2 separate regions of the Homo sapiens genome follow, and region 2 is linked to region 1. The links come from fine-mapping of genetic effects on gene expression. Tissue or cell type: whole blood. Region 1 holds a variant in brackets; the other region holds the start of a gene. All regions are shown on one strand. Distances are between the middles of the regions. Region 1 overlaps ALCAM (activated leukocyte cell adhesion molecule). Region 2 holds the start of ALCAM (activated leukocyte cell adhesion molecule).

What was found. PIP is the estimated chance that this variant, and not a neighbour inherited with it, causes the effect.
Region 2: ALCAM starts here. The variant in region 1 is fine-mapped to the expression of ALCAM in whole blood (INTERVAL, PIP above 0.99).

The regions. Positions count from the first base shown.
Region 1 is chr3:105,506,003-105,515,000 of GRCh38, reverse strand. All of the region lies in intron 1 of ALCAM (activated leukocyte cell adhesion molecule), which reads right to left. Among named protein-coding and RNA genes, the nearest start is that of ALCAM, 140 kb to the right of the region's middle. The variant G/A (reference allele first, on the strand shown) is at 5,259.
Region 2 is chr3:105,362,414-105,371,411 of GRCh38, reverse strand. It overlaps ALCAM (activated leukocyte cell adhesion molecule), which reads right to left and starts at 4,503. Exons shown (of 16, transcript NM_001627.4): 1 at 3,931-4,503. The coding sequence starts at 4,003. RefSeq lists enhancers at 1,481-1,981, 1,982-2,482, 2,819-2,978 and silencers at 4,009-4,128, 4,459-4,558.

The DNA.
Region 1 (8,998 bases):
AGAAGTTACCTGATGAAATCTAATGTCATTTTGTGAAATAGAAAGAAGGGCTTTTTCTCGTTTCTTTTTCTTTGTTAATTTTCCTTCAACAAATGGGGGTAGTTAGAGGCCAATTTGGGTCTGCTGCATCTGAAGTAGGGATATGTTTATTCAAAATTCATTTTCTGCATTGCCTTTCTCAAGTGTTATACATTATAATGTAGATATAATTGAGTGAGGCCTACAAATAAGATAAATAGTAATTATTCCTTCCTCCTCCCCCCACCACTTGCCACTGTGGAATAATCTTCAGAGGGAAAATGCCCATGTTACTAAATTATAAACTACTAGTAGTACCCAGGATTATGTTTTAAGATAGGTACTCTTTATTTTACTTCCAAGTTTGATATAATTTAATGCTCTAAATATTTATCTTTTTATTAAACAATAAGCCAATATAATAATCCATATTATGTCATAGAAAAGAATTACACAAACAATAAAGTTTTAAAAATACACTATCGATATTTACATTGCTGTGCAGAAAATTACCTTCTTAATTTACCTTAGCCTGATAGTTTGTTATTCTACAAGCATGAAATGATCTATGGGGCTGGATACGTCACAGTTTCTCCCAATTAGTTTAGGCTTTACCCCATCTCTACCTAATTTTATGGTTCCTTGGCCCCATCTACTCTGTTCAGATTCCTATGTTTCCTTTAAGGCCTATCTCAAAAATCATCGAATCATTCAATCATGCATCAAATATTTATTGGACACCTGCTACAGGGCAAGTTTTAGGTGTGCTTTGTGAAGAAAATGTATAAGTAAAATACAGAGGCCTTTTCCTTAAGAAACAAGATGAAATCAGTGTGAGGTTTTGGGTTGGTAAACCAAATGCTGTGGGACTGTATAGAAAGGAATCCCAGCAATGAGATTGAGGATATTGGTAAAAGCTTCTTGGAGGAAATTTCATTTGACCTCATCACTGAATTGAGGTTTCTATAGATGGGAAGATAGGAACTACCTCAATAGCACAGTGCATGAGAAGCACTGAGTGACGCTTGGTTTTCTCTCTTTGGGCAAACTCAATTTTTATTATAACAATTTCTACAGAGTAGATCTTTGATCTTCATAAGGAACATGTCCTAAGACTGGCAGTTTTCCCAAATTCATAAGCGCACATAAAATTTCTCTAATAAAATGCAATAAAATGTTAGATCTCTATTTTCTCTTTACTTTCAGCATCAACACTAGCATTTGGATTCCTTTTGGGGCCATTTTTAAATTATAAGCAAAAATCTTATTTAGAAATGATCAAAAAGCAACAGAATTGACTGAAGTTGTGAAACCTTATTTTTATTTTTTGAGTTGCCTCATGAATTTTAAATCAGAATATATGCAGATTCTACTGCACTCATTAGCATTTCTTAACTTGAGATCCAGGAATGAACTTTAAGGCATCTACTATACTATTCTTTGAAATTTTAGGGAATACAGCTACAGGGTAGTGAGAGGGGAGCACTGTGGTGATTTGAGATTAGTGTTCCCCCAAAATTGTCCCCTCTTAAAATTGTCCCCCCAAAAGCTATTTTTGCTTTAAAAACATTTTAATGGAATATAATATAGATGGAAAAAAGTACACAGATCTAGACTTACATTTGAAATGTCACTAAAAGCACTGGGCTTTAGGGTTTCCTTGGCAATGATCCTCACATTCTTTTTTCTGAGCAGGAGACTGAGATTCCACATACTTGTCCACAATGAAACCCCTGTGTTACCAAGTCATCATTCCTAAATGATGAGTATTTTTGGCCAGGCTATGGGGTCTATGCCAACATGCTAAGTAAGGCACAGGCCCTTAAGTGGTGATAAACTTAAATAAAAAACATTTAAAAATACTTCATGCTCTGTATGCGTGGGAAGGGGGTGCTTTGGGGGGGATAGGCAGAAAGAATACAATGAACCAAAAAAATCTAGATTTTGTGTGTAAAAAGAACAATCGCCTCTATTTTGTTTTAAAGTAGATTTTCATAGTAAGGAGGACTAAACAGGAGAAATGTTTAAGTATGTTTTTCTTTATACTATATATTTTGCTCAAAAACATGTATGTAATTAATAATTTGTGTTAACTGAAGTTCCGAAAGTTGACTATTTCCTACTATTATACTTCTAATTAGGATTTGAGGCTGAGTCCTTAAGGTGCTCATATAAGTAGAGTCCTTCACTCAGATAATTAGTCAATACAATAAAAATAACTAGCAAAGTATGATTTTCCTTCTGCTCCCCTCTCCCCTGATTCATTTTCTCAATTTAATTCTTGCTAAAGAACTAAATTTTCTTCAATTTAGTCTAGATTCTGATCCTGTTGACTTCATTTGGGAACTAGCTTAACTGGAGATGTAGAAACTTATATTTGAAATATTAGTTATATTAATTCAGGCTAAGTAATGCAAAGGACAGATGAATATATTTAGATTCTATTGCTCTGTACATTTTCTGAGCATGAAAATCTAAGTTTAACTATTTCAGAGTATCAGTTCTACTTAAATGGAGAAAAATTACACTTTCCTGTGCATTTTACCACATAAGTTGTATTGAAATTATGAATACAATTCACCTATTTTAGCAAGAAGAAGAGTGTACTGCATTCGTAAAAACATTTCAACAGAAAGGCAGGCATAATGCTTCCCAAAGGATCTTAATTGAATCATCTGAAGTAATGGAAAATTTGGAGTTTAGAATGAAGTCTGTCTTCAGAAAGAACTCACAGTTATTGTGACATTATTAAATTTGTTTTCTGCAAATAGTTTAATGTCATGACAACAAAAAGATCTCTTGATTTGAGAAAATCAAAGCTATCTTTGATAACACTACCAAACTCCAAAACCAAAAGTTTCTAATGCTTTAATATCCCTCAAAATGCTTTAGAAAAAATATATCACAAAGACTTTTAGCCAATAAGATCATCATTGTTTTCACAGAAAGCATCTGTTAATAATAGCTTACATGAACTGTATTGCTTTAGCTTTTAAAGTAATATTCAATAGTATTAGAATTACAGACTTAGAAAATGCTGTGTTATAATTGAGGTAGTGAATTACCAGGGATAAAAAAGTGGATTATTAGGGCTACTAAATGAGCAGAGTAGTAGATTTCTGCTTCTGAATTGGTTGAGTGATCTAGTCCGGTATGCTAGCTTCTGGTATATTCCACATTAAGTATCTAACCTCATACTGAAAAATGTTTATATCAGTTGAAATACCTTTTTGCTCTTTTCTTCACATGAATCACAATTAGCATTGCCTATGTCTCCTGAGGATATAGATTTGTACAATCAAACATGGTAAGTAGTAAAGGTTAAAAAGCTATTTAATAGATTTTTCCACATATTTGGTGCAGCTTGCTGGCTGATTTCCGAGACTTAGATTTGTGTAAATTCCATGCTTTTAATTGACAGCTCCCTGGAGGGGTTGCAATATAAGTTAAGGTCATAGGAAGAATATTACGGCTTTCTATGGCATTTTGTCCTTTCTTTAAGAACTGAAGTCAGCTTACTATAAGATCTAGTTTTCTAGCTTTGAGGAGAAAGGAGAGATGGAATGTTTGTCCAAGATAAATTTTTGAAGGAGACTAAAAGCACAGGAAAGAGGAAATTAAAAATAAAACAAATAGTCACATACACTTGGGAAATCAGTATAATCTGCTATCTGAAGATAAAATCATCTTTCTGCCTTAAGAGATGGTGTGTCACCTCAAGGACTGAGTGAGAATGGAGAGTCATGCTCATTGTAGCTTGCCCACAATGGTAGCCCAGTGGGGTAACTCTGGAATGCATGAACTTAGAGAGTCATACTGACATCTATTAATATTTTAACAATAACTTTTCATGTGTTCCATTTTTCCTGACAGTCATTCTTCTTAATTGAAGAGTGGGAGGAAAGATGGGAAAAAGAACAAGATAATTTAGGAAGGCAATGAGTAGAGATGAGAAATATAGGAAGCTGTATTGAAAGGTAGTTTTATCATTTCTAAGGGTATGAAATCTGCATCTGAAGGTGCCTCCCGTTTTGAAATTTTCCAGTACTCCCAAAGATTTTAACTCTTTGAAAACTTCATTTTATATCCCAGAGGCCAAATGTAGTTTTTTAATGTCTTATATTTATTCTGCAATTTAGGAAATGGTTAAATGCACCGCCCAGAAGAATTTTTGGAAGACTAGCTATCACAAACAAGGTGGTAAAACATAAACAAAAACACTGGATAAGGAAAACAAGTTCTTACAGCAGGTCAATGGCACCTGTAGACTGATTACACAGGAACTCGAACATGAGGACAGTGTTACTAAACCCTGACATGAACCCCTCTTCTGGGAATGTGCCTGCTCTCAGATGGTTTCCCACACTTGGTAATATTTGCATTCTGTCTCACTTGTCTCTGCTTCTCCTCTTCACATCCTTAGTAAAACATTATTAAATAAGTGGTTCATCACTTTTGTTTATTATTTAGGGAAAAAAGTCTCTGTGAAGTCTAGTGGACATGAAAATGTTCCTCATAGATCTCCAACTGCTGGGAACATAACTTACCCAACTGCCACATTCTGTCTATTACCAGATTTGTGCTAAGGTTACACTTTTACCAGCTGTTCCCAGCTAATAATTGAATGCAACAAGTATACTAAGACAGGCAAGTTTCTTGGTTACAAGAGACTCCTATGAGGGCTGATTATAGCTCACGGATACCCCGATTCCCTGATGAACCTTCCTTAGACTGCATGACAGTCTAGAACGCTTCCACCCAACCTTCATATCCTCTCCCTTTCACTTGGGACCATCTTTACTCTGCGGTATGCTTATTCTCCACACCGACCACCCCCATCTTCTTCCTCATTTTTTCTTGCATAGGTGTTTTTCCTAATACATTCTTTGTATGTTAAATCCATTTTGACATCTGCTTTTCAGAGGATCCTAACATCTGGAGGAAATTAGGCAGATCATAACCGTATTGACCCACTGACATTAGTAGACTATGAAATTCCAGAAAATAAAGATTTCAGTACTGATGTGATGAAAAAATCCCACCCCAATTTAGTAAGGGGTTAGTTAAATTAAAAATAAAAAATATACAAAAAATGAGTTTAACATTGATTAAAGACTTAAATGTAAGACAAACCTTAAAGCTTTTAGAAGAATGCATAGGGGAAAAGCTCTTTGACATTGGACTTGGCAATAATTTTTTTGGATAAGACACCAAAAGCACAGGCAACAAAATTAAAATAC[G/A]CAGGTAAGACTATATTAAACTAAAAAGCTTCTACACAGCAGAGGAAACAACCAGCAAAATAAAAAGTCAGCCTATGAATAGGGAGAAAATATTTGCAAACCATATACCTGATAAAGGGTTGATATCCAAAATATGTAAGGAATTCATAAAACTTAGTAGTAAACAAAACAAAACCCACAGAGAAGCAGATAAAAAAAACAGGCACATGACCTGAATAGGCATTTTTCCAAAGAAGACATATAATTAGCCAATAGATATATGAAAAGGTACTCAACATCACTCATCATTAGGGAAATTAAATCAAAATCACAATGACATATCATCTCATGCCTGTTAAGATGGTTCTTATTGAAAAAACAAGAGATACCAAGTATTGATGAGGATGTAGAGAAAAGGAAATCCTTGTACGCTCTTGGTGGCAATGTAAATTGGTACAGCAATTATGAAAAACGGTGTGAAGGTTCCTCAAAAAGTTAAAATAGAACTACCAGATAATCCAGCAATCCCACTTCTGGGTATATGCCTAAAAGAAAGGAATCAATACTGAGATGCCTGTACTCCCCTGTTCACTGCAGCATTATTCACAATAGCCAAGATATGGACACAACCAAAGTGTCTATTTATGGATGAAAGGATAAATAAATTGTCTATATAGATACAAACACAATAAAATATTACTCAGCCTCAACAAAGGAGACCCTGCCATTTGTGACAACACAGAGGAACCTGGAGAACATTATGCTAATTGAAATAAGCCAAAGAAAGACAAATGCTACATAATCATACTTATATGTGGAATCTAGAAAAGGCAAATACACAGAAACAGAGAGTGGATGGTGATTACCAGGGGTGGGAAGATGTCAGAAGTGGGGAGATGTTGGTCAAAGGCTACAAAGTTACAACTGTATAGGACACAACTAGAAATGTAAAGTACAGCATGATGACTGTGGTTAATAATAGTGTACTGTATAGTAGAAATTTTCTAAGAGAGTGGATTTCAGGTACTCTCATCACACACAAAAAATGATAACTATGTGAGGAGAGTGATATGTTGATTTGCTTAACTGTAGTCATCATTTCACAAGGCATATGTATATCAAAACCTCATGTTGTATAGATTAAATATATACAATAAAAGATTAAATAGACCTAGAAATACATTAAAGCAATTGGTAATAATACTGAATGTTTTTATGGTGTTTTATAGTTTGCAACATTCTTTTATATACATTGTACATTTTTGCATTTGGGCTTCACAAAAGTCCTGTATGATAAGCAAAGAAACCTGTATGATGAACAAATATTATTATCCTTCATTTTACCAATAGGAAACTGTTCTCCCTGCAAAGTCAAGAGAATAAGCCAATATCACGAAGCCAGTATGTGATGGAGATAGAGCTCAAAATGAATTCTCAGCTCAAGTCCAATTCTCATCACTATTAGATATACAAAAAATGATTCCATGTCCTTATTTCATTTTATATTGTGGATAATTCAAGAATATTGTTTTGGAAAGTATTAAAATGCTTTTCATATTTAGACAAATATTTTAAAAAACATATAGGTTAGAAGGACTAGAAAGAAAATGAACTAACACATTTTATCACTTCTTTCTCAATGGGATGCTATGTAGCAATTTGGCACTTGCTCCCAGGAAATACAAGTCCTGTCCGTGGCAGCTGTTCTAATTTTCAAAATAAAATAGAAAATCATGAATATTCAAGAAGATAGGCATCTTTCAGATCAGGAACCAGAAGTCTAATGAGGCTTTTTAATGTAGGTGGGGCACTCAGGTTACAGGCAGAGGAGCCCTATATGCATTTCTAACACCAAAAACGGCAGGGGTAGCACAGTAGACCTCCAATAAAAACGTACTGAATGACTAAAATGGCAAGGTTGAGATTAAAGTCTTTCTAACTTAAAGACCTGTGTCTTTCCTCTCTGTCAAAAACACTTTTCACAATTAACGACTTTTCAAATGAGTTGCAAGTTTATGTCCACACAAAAACCTGAACAAGAATGTTTATACAAGCTTTACTTATAACTTCTAAAACTTGGACAAGATGTCCTTCAACAGATGAATGAAAAAATTGTGGTAATCCAGACAATGAAATATTATTTAGCAATAAAAAGAAATGAGCCAGCAAGCCATGAAAAAAACACGAAGGGACCTGAAATGCATACTGCGAAGTAAAAGAAGCCAGTCTGAAAAGGCTAAATACTGTATGATTCCAACTATATGCCATTCTGGAAAAGGCAAAACTATGGAGATAGTAAAGAGACCAGTGGTTGCCAGGGTCTCAAGGGAGGGAGGAAAGAATGAATAGACGGAGAACAGGACATTTTTAGGGCAGTGAAATTATTCTGATATGATAATGAATAAACATTATTAAGTGTTTGTCGAAACCCATAAAATGTACAACACAACAGGAAAATCTAATGTAAGCTAGGGACTATAGTCAATAATAATGTATCAACATCGGCTCACCAATTGCAACAAATGTACCACACTAATGCAAAGATGTTAATAATAGGGGAAACTAGGGGCAAGGGGGTGGGGAGGCAGGGAATTGCGGGCCTATATAGGAGCTCTTTACTTTCCACTCAAATTTTTCCATAAACTAAGAACAGATAAAAATAGTCTATTAATTAAAAACAAGTGATACACACAATTTCTTCAGCCTATGCAATATATTCTACATTTAGACAGTCTCATCTAAATTCCACTGGTATAGGGAGAGGGAAGGACACAAACATCTTCAAGGGCAAAGCTTTGGCATCCATTAGCAGAGGTGATTCCAGTCTAGGCAGCTGAATCCCCAGGCAGATTTCAGCAGGTGCTGACTTTCCAACAGCACCAAAACCTCTGATGAACAAGAGTGTCTTGAGTAGAGGCTTAGCAATTGCTGTTTTATGATTATGTTTTTCACATATTCCCAATCCCACTGAGGTGCTAATACATTTGGTTCATCTTTCCATTTTAAAAGAGACAATGGCTTTGATAATTTGTTCATGGTTACTGCTTAGGGAGATAATGACACTCAAAATTCCCCTAACTGAATATTATAATATTACGTCTTTGGCTCTGCTATTTTTAACAGCTTTTAAAGACAATAGTGTCATTTGGGTTTAAAAAAAAGTTCACTGTTCCTACTCATTAAAGGAATACTAGGTTATAAAGACGAGCTGTAAGAGTCCTAGCAGGGCTTCAGATTATATCATGTATTTAGTTTATGAATCTCATTTTGTTATGAATCTATAACTGAAACAACTCCCAATGCTTCCCCCAGGAAGTAATTAATTGGAAACCAAACAAACAAACCACATGGAAAAGACTGAAATACTTTGTATTACTGTCTGAAAATCCAATGGTAATTTTCAAGTTCATTCCCACCTGAGTCCTACAAAAATATGCTATAAGTGTGTGTTCTTCAGCTACAATTCTACCTCTCTGTGTATTTACAACAGCTAATAAGAACACCACCCCTAGAATCAATTTAAAACATTTTCTTTATGTTTTGTGAATTGCAGGAAGCCTCAACATGCAAATATAACTATTAGTACATGTTTAATTAACAGGCATATATTACATACTTCTTAGGTAAAGAGTATCATTTTAGAGAGTTTGTTATGTAGAAATCCATAAATTTGTGTTTCTAATTTTAAAAACAGGGAGCTGTTCAACAAAGAAAATTTCCAATACAAAATCTTATTTAACAGTCACCAAGGTAAACACATA
Region 2 (8,998 bases), 140 kb after region 1:
AGCACGTTTTACTTAAAAAATTTGAAATGCTGAGCAAGGGAATTACTAATCTCAACACAATCAGAACCACACATTGCACAGAAAGAAATTCACAGATGGGAAATAAAAAAGAGCAGAAAAATAATTTTCCCAAGGTCACAACATTCTTACATGACATAGTTAGAAACTGAACACATGAATACTGACTACAATATACAATTTTTCTAATAACACAAGACTATTTAATTAATTTTCTTCTTTTTGATAAGTCAATGGTAGACATGCATTTTCATCTGAATGTCTATTAAAAAAGATAAGCTAGTTTGAATTTTTTACAAAGTCAGAAAAGGTTTGGAATCTGGTAAGACAAGATATTTTGGATTTCTACAAGTTTTAAAACAATAGAAAAATATTAGTATTTTCTATTTCCTTCTGTCTTGCATTTACAACCATGTTGCAAATCAACTTTTTGAGCAACTTTAGGATGTACAATATGAGGCTTTGTCATATGAATATTTAAGCATAAACCATAATTTACATCTCATTCTAGGTACTATGTATGCAGTTTATATAGGAACAGGTTTGCAGGAGAGATGAGTTACACTAGCAGGGCTTTCTGAGGCCTACTATCCTTTCTTACTTTTGGGTCCTCTTTTCCCAGGAGAGTGGAAGGCTAATTTCTCTCCTTCACGCTTTTTTTTTTCCCTACTAAGGCTGGAAAGAGTAAGCATAGATGTTATCATGAATTTTTAAAGGTAGAAAAAAAAAGGAAATTAGAAATTGGGGTCTACTGATACTTTTCTAATAATACAATTTATATGAATTTTGTCTAGACTGAGATCCTTAGAAAAATAGTGTTGAAAAATGACTCTGCCTGCCTAAATTGGTTTTTTACCTTAAGACTTCAGAAACAAAGAGTTTTTGAGCTGGGAGACATTTCAGAGAGTAGGCCTCTAGTCTGTCTTTTTATTTTGTATGAGAAAACTGAAGCTCAAAAAGGTTAAATGACTTGCTCAAGTGCCTGAAGGTAGATGTCCTGAAGAAAGCCTAGAAAAGCAATTTACTGCAAATAATGCTCCATTAAATTGTAAATTGCTATTGGATTAAATAAATCCTTAAGGAAAAAATATATATATATTGGCTGTTAAACAGTTTTTAGTTTTTAAATTAATCAATTTCAATAGTCCTACATCAATAGTCTTTGAAAGGACATTATTTGAGTTGATGCTTTCCCAAGTCCTGTTGAGATCAATTGATATGTTTCAAACATAATATCCCACTGAAGAAAGCTTTATGTGTGCTTATGTCTTAGAATGAATCTTATATCAGTGAGATCAGTGAGTAGTTATGAAAAATCCCATAGAGGGGTTCATACAGATGACCCAAGTGAAGAAAGAGTTAACTGCAGCGCCCCATCTCCTTGTAAATAATCCAGAAAAGCATTCTTTTTTTAAGCAATACAAAATGTCACCACAGGCTGACGCTCTTTCTACAAGAATAACGAGAATATTGCTATCTCGGATGTTGAACACACACTTCATTGCCTTCATCTCTGAATTCAGTTTTCGTGGTTCATATATTTTTCTCCTCCTTTCAAAACAGGTAACGTGGCACGCCTAAAATATATCAATGACTTTGTAGCGACTACAAGCCGAAAGACCCGGGGAAGCAGTTTCACAAACTCGAGTTTTTGACCTCTACAACTGGACATACACTATTAAAACTGCTCCGGAAATGAAGAGTGGCCGGCAGGGAAGGCAGTTACCCCGCTCAAATGAAGCCGGCCTTTGGCACCGCGCCCCCACCGGGCTCTGCTATGCAGAGGGCTCCGAAGAAGGCGCACTTACTGTCCAAGACTTGCTTCCTCAGTGTAGACACGGCGCCTTTAGTGCTGTAACCTTTCCTTTCAAAACACACTGATACTGCAATGAGAATTTCGGCAATGCCAGCTCGGTAATTCACCGAAACCACGGATCTGAGGGTCCAGGGCCGATATCGGATCCTCAGATTCACGGTGGCTGGTTGCGGTGAGCCGGGGCTAGCCGCTCGCCGAAAGCGCGCAGCTCGGTGCCCCCTGGACACACGAGCCTGTGGCGCCAAAAGAACCACCGTGAAGGAGGTCTGAAAGCGGAACTTTCCCCCTTTTAGCAGTTAAATGTGTAGAAAAACCTATCCTGCGACGTGGCCCGCCTGTGACGGCACCGAAAAGGAAACTGGTTATGTGCCTGTGTCAGGGGTGTGGACGAGGGTGAGATTACATTCTCCAAGTCTCGAGGGGGTTAATCGGAAAACCAACTGTGGGCGTGTGGACGTTTGCATGTTACAAACCGACATCACCCTTGTCCTCCCTTCTTGGCTCATTCCCTGGCTCCAAAGTGTCCTTTCCTCCATCGGACAGTGGAATCTCGAAAAAGTGAAATCCACACTGTGCCAGGCCCAAGGGGGTCTCGCCTTTCCACCTACCTCCCCAGCGTTGTTACACTAGGACACCTGCTTTAAATCCGGTTGAACTATGGTTTCACAGTCCCCGCCCCAGAGCCCGAGATTTGTCAGAGAACGCAGACGCCTTTTTTTTCCCTCAGCCTCAGAAACATCAGGTGAGCTCATTACCTCACCCAGAAATGTAACTTTAATAAAGAGATCTGGAGAGGGCACTCCTCCCGCCCACACACACAGCAACGGCAGCAGCAGCAGCAGCTCGCAAACACTTGTAATCTCTTCCTCAGGCTCTGGCCCCCAAACCCCTCTCCCCGCCAGTTCCTGGGAGAGATTCAGAGGCTTTCAAACCTCTTCTGTGACCTGAGCTTGCCGACAGCTGAAGGGATGTGCACGGATAAAAGGAAGTGAGATTTTTCTTTGATAAAAGCTAAAGAAAAAGCTAAGAACAAACAGGCCAAAATACCAGGAAGTAGGAGTTTAACTGGCAACTGTCTACGCAGGGATAGAAAAAAAAAACTTCAAAGAAAAAAAAATCCCCTAAATTTTCAGTTTAGGGGAGCAAAGGAACCTGCTGCTCTGTCAGGCAACTGTGAGCGCACGGAATACCCTGTTAGAACAACTTGTGTCAGCCGCCAGGCGGGCCTGAGGATACCAGGGCCAGGGGACGTCCCCGAGGGTGTGGAAAGGGATTTCCCGAGAGATATTTTAGTTGTTGGGAATTTTGCCTTTTCTCTCTCTCTCTCTCTCTCTCTCTCTCTCTCTCTCTCTCTTCCAAGACTCAGTACAGAACTGAGAACTGAGGCTCTATGAGCAGGTCCTGGAAATTCACAAACCTCTCACTGAGGTGTCTCCCAGGCCTACCTACTAATTCCTGTTCTGGCTGTGTTATCTGCCTGCGGTCACCCTTTCACTCACCACCCGCCCAGACAATGGACGGGGACCGCAGGGGGTAACGTTGAAACCACGATTTTAAGCTTTAGCAGGTTTCGCAAGGGGGGCGGGGGGAGGTGATTAAAGTCCTCTCCTTCTCTACCCCTCCCATCCCTTCCTCGGCTCACCAAGGGGAAGTTACTAGGGGATTTATCACGAAAAAGTGCCGGCAGTTATTTCATCCGAGAACTAAGCGAAAGAAAAACTGCTCGGGGCGCAGTGACGTGGACTTGGATACCCAGAGACAGGAGGAACTGTCAGAGGGCAAGAGTCCGCCGCCTAGCTGGGAGCCGCAGGGACAAGGGGAGAGCGTCAGGCGAATCCTGCCCACCCCGGAGCACCAAGTTCCTGGAGATTCACCCAGTTTCCCCAGCTTGATGCCCAAACTTGAGCTAACCAGCCAAGCCCAAACGTGCGGCACAGGTGACCGAGCCCGGGGACAGCTCTGTGCCAGGACAGCGGTCCCCTTACCTCCACCACGCGCCTGGGCGCACTGCCTCGGGGGTGCGAGGCTGGGACGGGGACCTAGGAAACTGCTCCAGGCCCACGTCTGTCTGGGGCTGCTCCCAGGCCCTTGCTCACCTGGCCTGAAGACGGTGGCGGAGATCAAGAGGCAGAAGAGCAGACGGCAGGAACTGGCCCCCTTGGATTCCATATTCCTCCTCCTTCTTGGTGGGCCACTGACGGAGTCCACGCCGCAGGAGGGGGCGTCGTCCCGGGCCCCGCGGTGCCCGCGCGCTGGCGGGTCCCGACGCAGGGGCAGCGTCTTCTCCCAGACACACCGTCCCCTGGGCTGTGGCGCTGCACCTTCGGTTCTCTGCCGCACGCAACTTTCCACCACGCAATGCCCCCAACTCCTCCTCCCTCCCGGTCAACACCAGCCCACGGGCCCTTCGGCTGCTCCTCCGGGGACAACGACCCTCTGTTTCCAGGAGACACTTGAGTAATTCGGAAAGGTGTAAGCGGTTCTTTTCGCTGGTATCTTCTTTTATTTTCCTTGTATTGGAATGATAATAATAATGGCAGTGGCAATGTGCATGAAACGCCAGGTGCTAAGAAGGACTCGCAGGAGGCGGCGACGGGGGGGCGGCGGGTCTCCTCAGGTGGCAGCGGTGGTAGCAGCGGCAGCGGCGGCAGCGGTCTCCGGGCTGCTCTGAGTAGAGGGACTGGAAGGCGTGTGTAAGCTGCCTCTTTCCTCCTCTCCCCGCCTCCTCCCTCCCTCCCGTCTCCTCCCCACTTCCCCGGACGCAGCGCAAAGCAGGTGGTTGAAGCGCGGATCCGCAGCCTAGAGGCGCTGCAGGACTGAGTCCGAGCCCTGAGCCCAGCTCCGGGATCAGGGAGAACCGCGTGCCCCGGTCCTGGAGCCCGGATGAGCGGTGCTTCACCGCGGCTCCGCCCCCAGGGCCAGGTCCGCCAATAAGAAGCAAGCACAGGAGCCGCGCGCGCCAGGGAGAGCCCTGGGACTAACACTTTCTGTGATGTTGCAGCGCCCCAGTGATAAGGCCTCTGGCTTCCAACTGCCCACCCACCCTCGCTGAGGTTTAAAAATCGACTGCCCTCTCCCTCCACCCATACGCCCATCCCACTGACTCATTCCTCAGAGATTTTTCTCCGCCGTGCTGCTGCAGCCTTCTGTCCTGTAAAGAGAATAGTGGGGCAGGGCGGTGGCGGTGGGGAGCGAACCTTGGGTCCAAGAGCGGGAGTGAAGGGAAAAGGAAAGGAAAGGGCAGGAGGAAGTGGCAAAGGTGGAAACTTGCTTCTTGGGAGTTAACAGGAATAGCTACTTGTTGGCAGGGGCAACCCCTGTACTGGACTGATTCCTCCTGTACTTTTCGAATCTCTCTCCTCCCCCTGCTCACCCCCACCACTCCCCTCACACCCGGCTGGCATAGACTTGGTTTTAAAGGAAGACTACGTGAGTCGACTGCCCGGTACCAACAGAAGATATTTGCTTTTCCCGGGGGAAATTAAATCCGGAATTTCTAAACCGTACTTCGTCATACGGATTTTCCCAATGTCTACAAAAGCCCTCTAGAGAGCGTGTCACTTTTTTACTTTGAGTTAAGCGGTGATTTTAAGTTATAGACAGAAAATCCTCAAATTATTTCAGATTAAAAGCCAAGTCCGTCTTGGTCCGTTCCCGAAAGCCAGGCACTCCAGCAGATGGACAGGCTTCTTAGGCAATTTCTAAAGATTGAACCACCTCCCAGGAGGAACATCGGGAAGCTGTGTTGCTTTCAAATCAGGCAGAGAGCATGAAGGAAGATTTTCCTCTAGAACACCGGGGTGGAGCTGTCGGAGCCCTAAGTGGCTCTAAATCAGGGATGCAGGATCACAACTCTCATCACCAAAGAATAATAAAATCTTGGTCCCTGAAGCACTTCGCTGGGGCATTAAATAGCCTTTCGTGCATCACAGGGTCACCCTTTTGTGAGACTGGTCTCCAGCAGAGGATGCCAACTAGTAATCGTTACATACTGCACTTTCATCAGAAAACTGCGAGTTACCAGCGAGATTGGAGACTCGCAACACACAGACACACACACACACACACACACTCACACACTGATTTTTAAAATTGTTTATCTTTTAGTGCTCTAAACTATTAAGCCCTATCTTCAGCTGTGATTTTTCTCAAAAGCCTGCTTGTCCTGTTCTTCCAGTTCTCCTTACATTAACAATATTCTAGAGTAGAGCTTTTATACCATATTTTTTTCCTCTCAAAATAAGTAGTTTCTCCCACTTGGTTTAAACATTAACATTTCATTTGCATCTTATGAATCAACAGGAAGGCTATCGCTAGGAGGCAAATGCCTTTTAACTCTATATTCCTTGAGCTAAGCTTGGCTGAAATGCTAGCATTTCCATGGACTCCTGTAGAATTGCTTTAGGGAATTGTTTTCTTTTTCACTGTGGTTGTAAGTGGGGTGTATTAGAATAAATCGACCTGACAATATATTTAACCTAGGTCCGCGAACGCTCTATCTGATCTCCTCTATTTTACGATGGGAGTTAATACAGCATAATTGCTTAAAGGTAGATTTGCAAAAGGAAGACTGATTTGGGCTCTGACACTAACTGTATGATCTTGGTCAACTCACTTAACCTCTTTAAGCTTCAGTCTCCTTTCTTGTAAAAAGTGATAATAGTGCTAGCCTCATGGGATTGCTGTGAAGATCAAATGAGATCAAACACACAAACACACACGTGGAATTCTGGGAGCAACTGACTATACAAATATGTACATATTATACTTATACACAAACACATGCATATATATATGGGCATATGTATAATATATATTTGAATGTGTAGTCCACTGCTTCCAGAATTGTTTTTAGAAAGGAATGTGTCCTAGTTTAGGAAAATGCCTTGATAAGCCACTTGGACTAGTAACTCCAAAGGCTATTGGTCATTAAAAAAAAATGGTGAAACGGCTCTATATTAAACAAAATAATAACCATGAAAATAGAAATTTGGCCTGGGAGTGGGGACGAAGGCAACAATACAAAGCATGAGTTTAGAAATGTTCAAAGGTCTTTAGATCTATTAATTAGCAACACTTACATGTTAGAATATTCTAAGCAATTTATATGAATTAATAGATGTATTCCCCTCATAAAAATTTATTGAAGGAGTTGCTATTTTCATCCTCATTTTACTCATGAAGAAACTGAAACCCAGAGACTCGAAGCAACTTTTCCAAGGTCACACAATGATTCATAGCAATGGTAAAGCCAGGGTTCTACCCAGGCATTCTGATTCTTGAACTGAATTCCTATCTACTTTGCTCATCACTATCCACTTTGCTTATCAAGAATGCGTAGCAATAAATGTATGGTTTTTTTGGTGGGGCGATTGATTTAAACATAAGTTCTCTCATCCTTTCACACACATTTTCATTAAGGAAATTTATTAATAAAGCAGCGCACCCTATCTGCGTAGGCCAGATACAGTGCATATGAGATGACAAGACCACTTCTAAACTGAAATAATGTAGCATAAGCAAGAGCTCAGAGTTAGAAATAAACATAAAAATGTAAGCTCCACAAAGTAATGTAATCGAATTAATCTTTCAAAATCTAGTCAATGTGGGATTGGATCCATCTTACCTAATTCTTGAGAGGAAGAGTGTTTCCAGCTACATGTAGATCACAGTCACTTTTGTTACAATTGAGAATACATAGTATTCCAATAATATTTATTGTATAGTTTAGTCATGCATCAGAGAATCATAAGGGTACATCTTGCTGAAAGGGAAAAATGAATAACATTTATCCAGGGGGAAAAAATTTCACGTTACCTGGGACATGAGAAGAGCTTTGTATTTTAAGTATAAAGGAATTCATCATCAATCAGGATGATATGCTCAAAAGCAGTGACATGGTACCGGAGGCAAGTTTCCTACTTACGGTCTGTTGAGATAAGGACTCAGGATTCCCAAGGCTCAGGCCAGGACCCCTTCCCTGTACTAAAATATTAATCCCATCAGTATGTGACAACATAGCCGAGTCAATTGTGTGTGCCTTTGAAGAATGGAAGTAGTTTTTCTCCCCTGATTAGCACCGCCAAAATTTCCACTGGAGATGAAATTTCAACAAAGATAGTTTTGGAAGCTGAGAACATTTGTTCCTACCACTGTATACCATTGTGTTTTGTTTGCCTTCCTACTCCTTGAACAAAATTGTATGCAGTTCCAGAGCATGCAACAAATCTGATTCACTCTTCTCTCCTTCAAGCGTCACCTACGGTGAATGCATGTTCAGCCATACTTAAAAATAGATTGGACACTTGATAAATTTTTGTGAATGGATGATAAGTGGTGAGAAAAATACCTAATGGAATATAAGCCTTCAAACCATCTTACAAGGGTTCATGATATGAGAAGATGAAAGGGGTTTCCATTGGGTCTTCAATGATTGGTCTAGGCAGACTAAGGTTTAGGAAAGGCAAAAAGAATGAGTCAAGTCCTAGTCAACAAGGTGATAACTATGAAGTATAAAGTGAGGAAACAATCTACAGAAGAAAGGCTGTACTAAAATTATATGCCATCAATTAGAATAAAACAAAGTGGCCCATGCTGAGCACAGAAACCTGATTAGTAAAGGTTCTAGGTGATCAAGCTAGGGCTTAGGCTAATATACTGATGACAAAGATTGAAATAAGGGCCTAAGTGGGATTTATATTAAGTCTAGGAAGAAACACAATCTTAAAGAGGCACAGAGATTACATCTGTATAATATAAAATTCTGTTTTATTCTAGACTCCAAGTTGTTTTTAAGTAAATGATTTCCAAAGTTATTGTATTAAATACACATGGAGGACCTCTGGGTATATCTCTTCCCAAGTCCATTGAATTTTATTGTTTAATTTCAGTTGTTAACAGTATCATCTGTCAATGAATTAATACAATTCTGCAACTCACCTTTTCAATAATGCCAGCTAATAAAGACATATCACTGAAGCTCAGGAGAGTAAAAACTTTCAAAGTCTATGATAAACATTATGTTCTTATTTCACAGAATGTTCAGTCTGGGTACAAAAAGAAATACATAGCTATTTCAGTTGAACTAGAAATCCACTTAGTCATTTTCCTTCCTGTCTCAGACATGAGGAATGAAGAAAGAATTTAGCTACGCTATTTGACTAT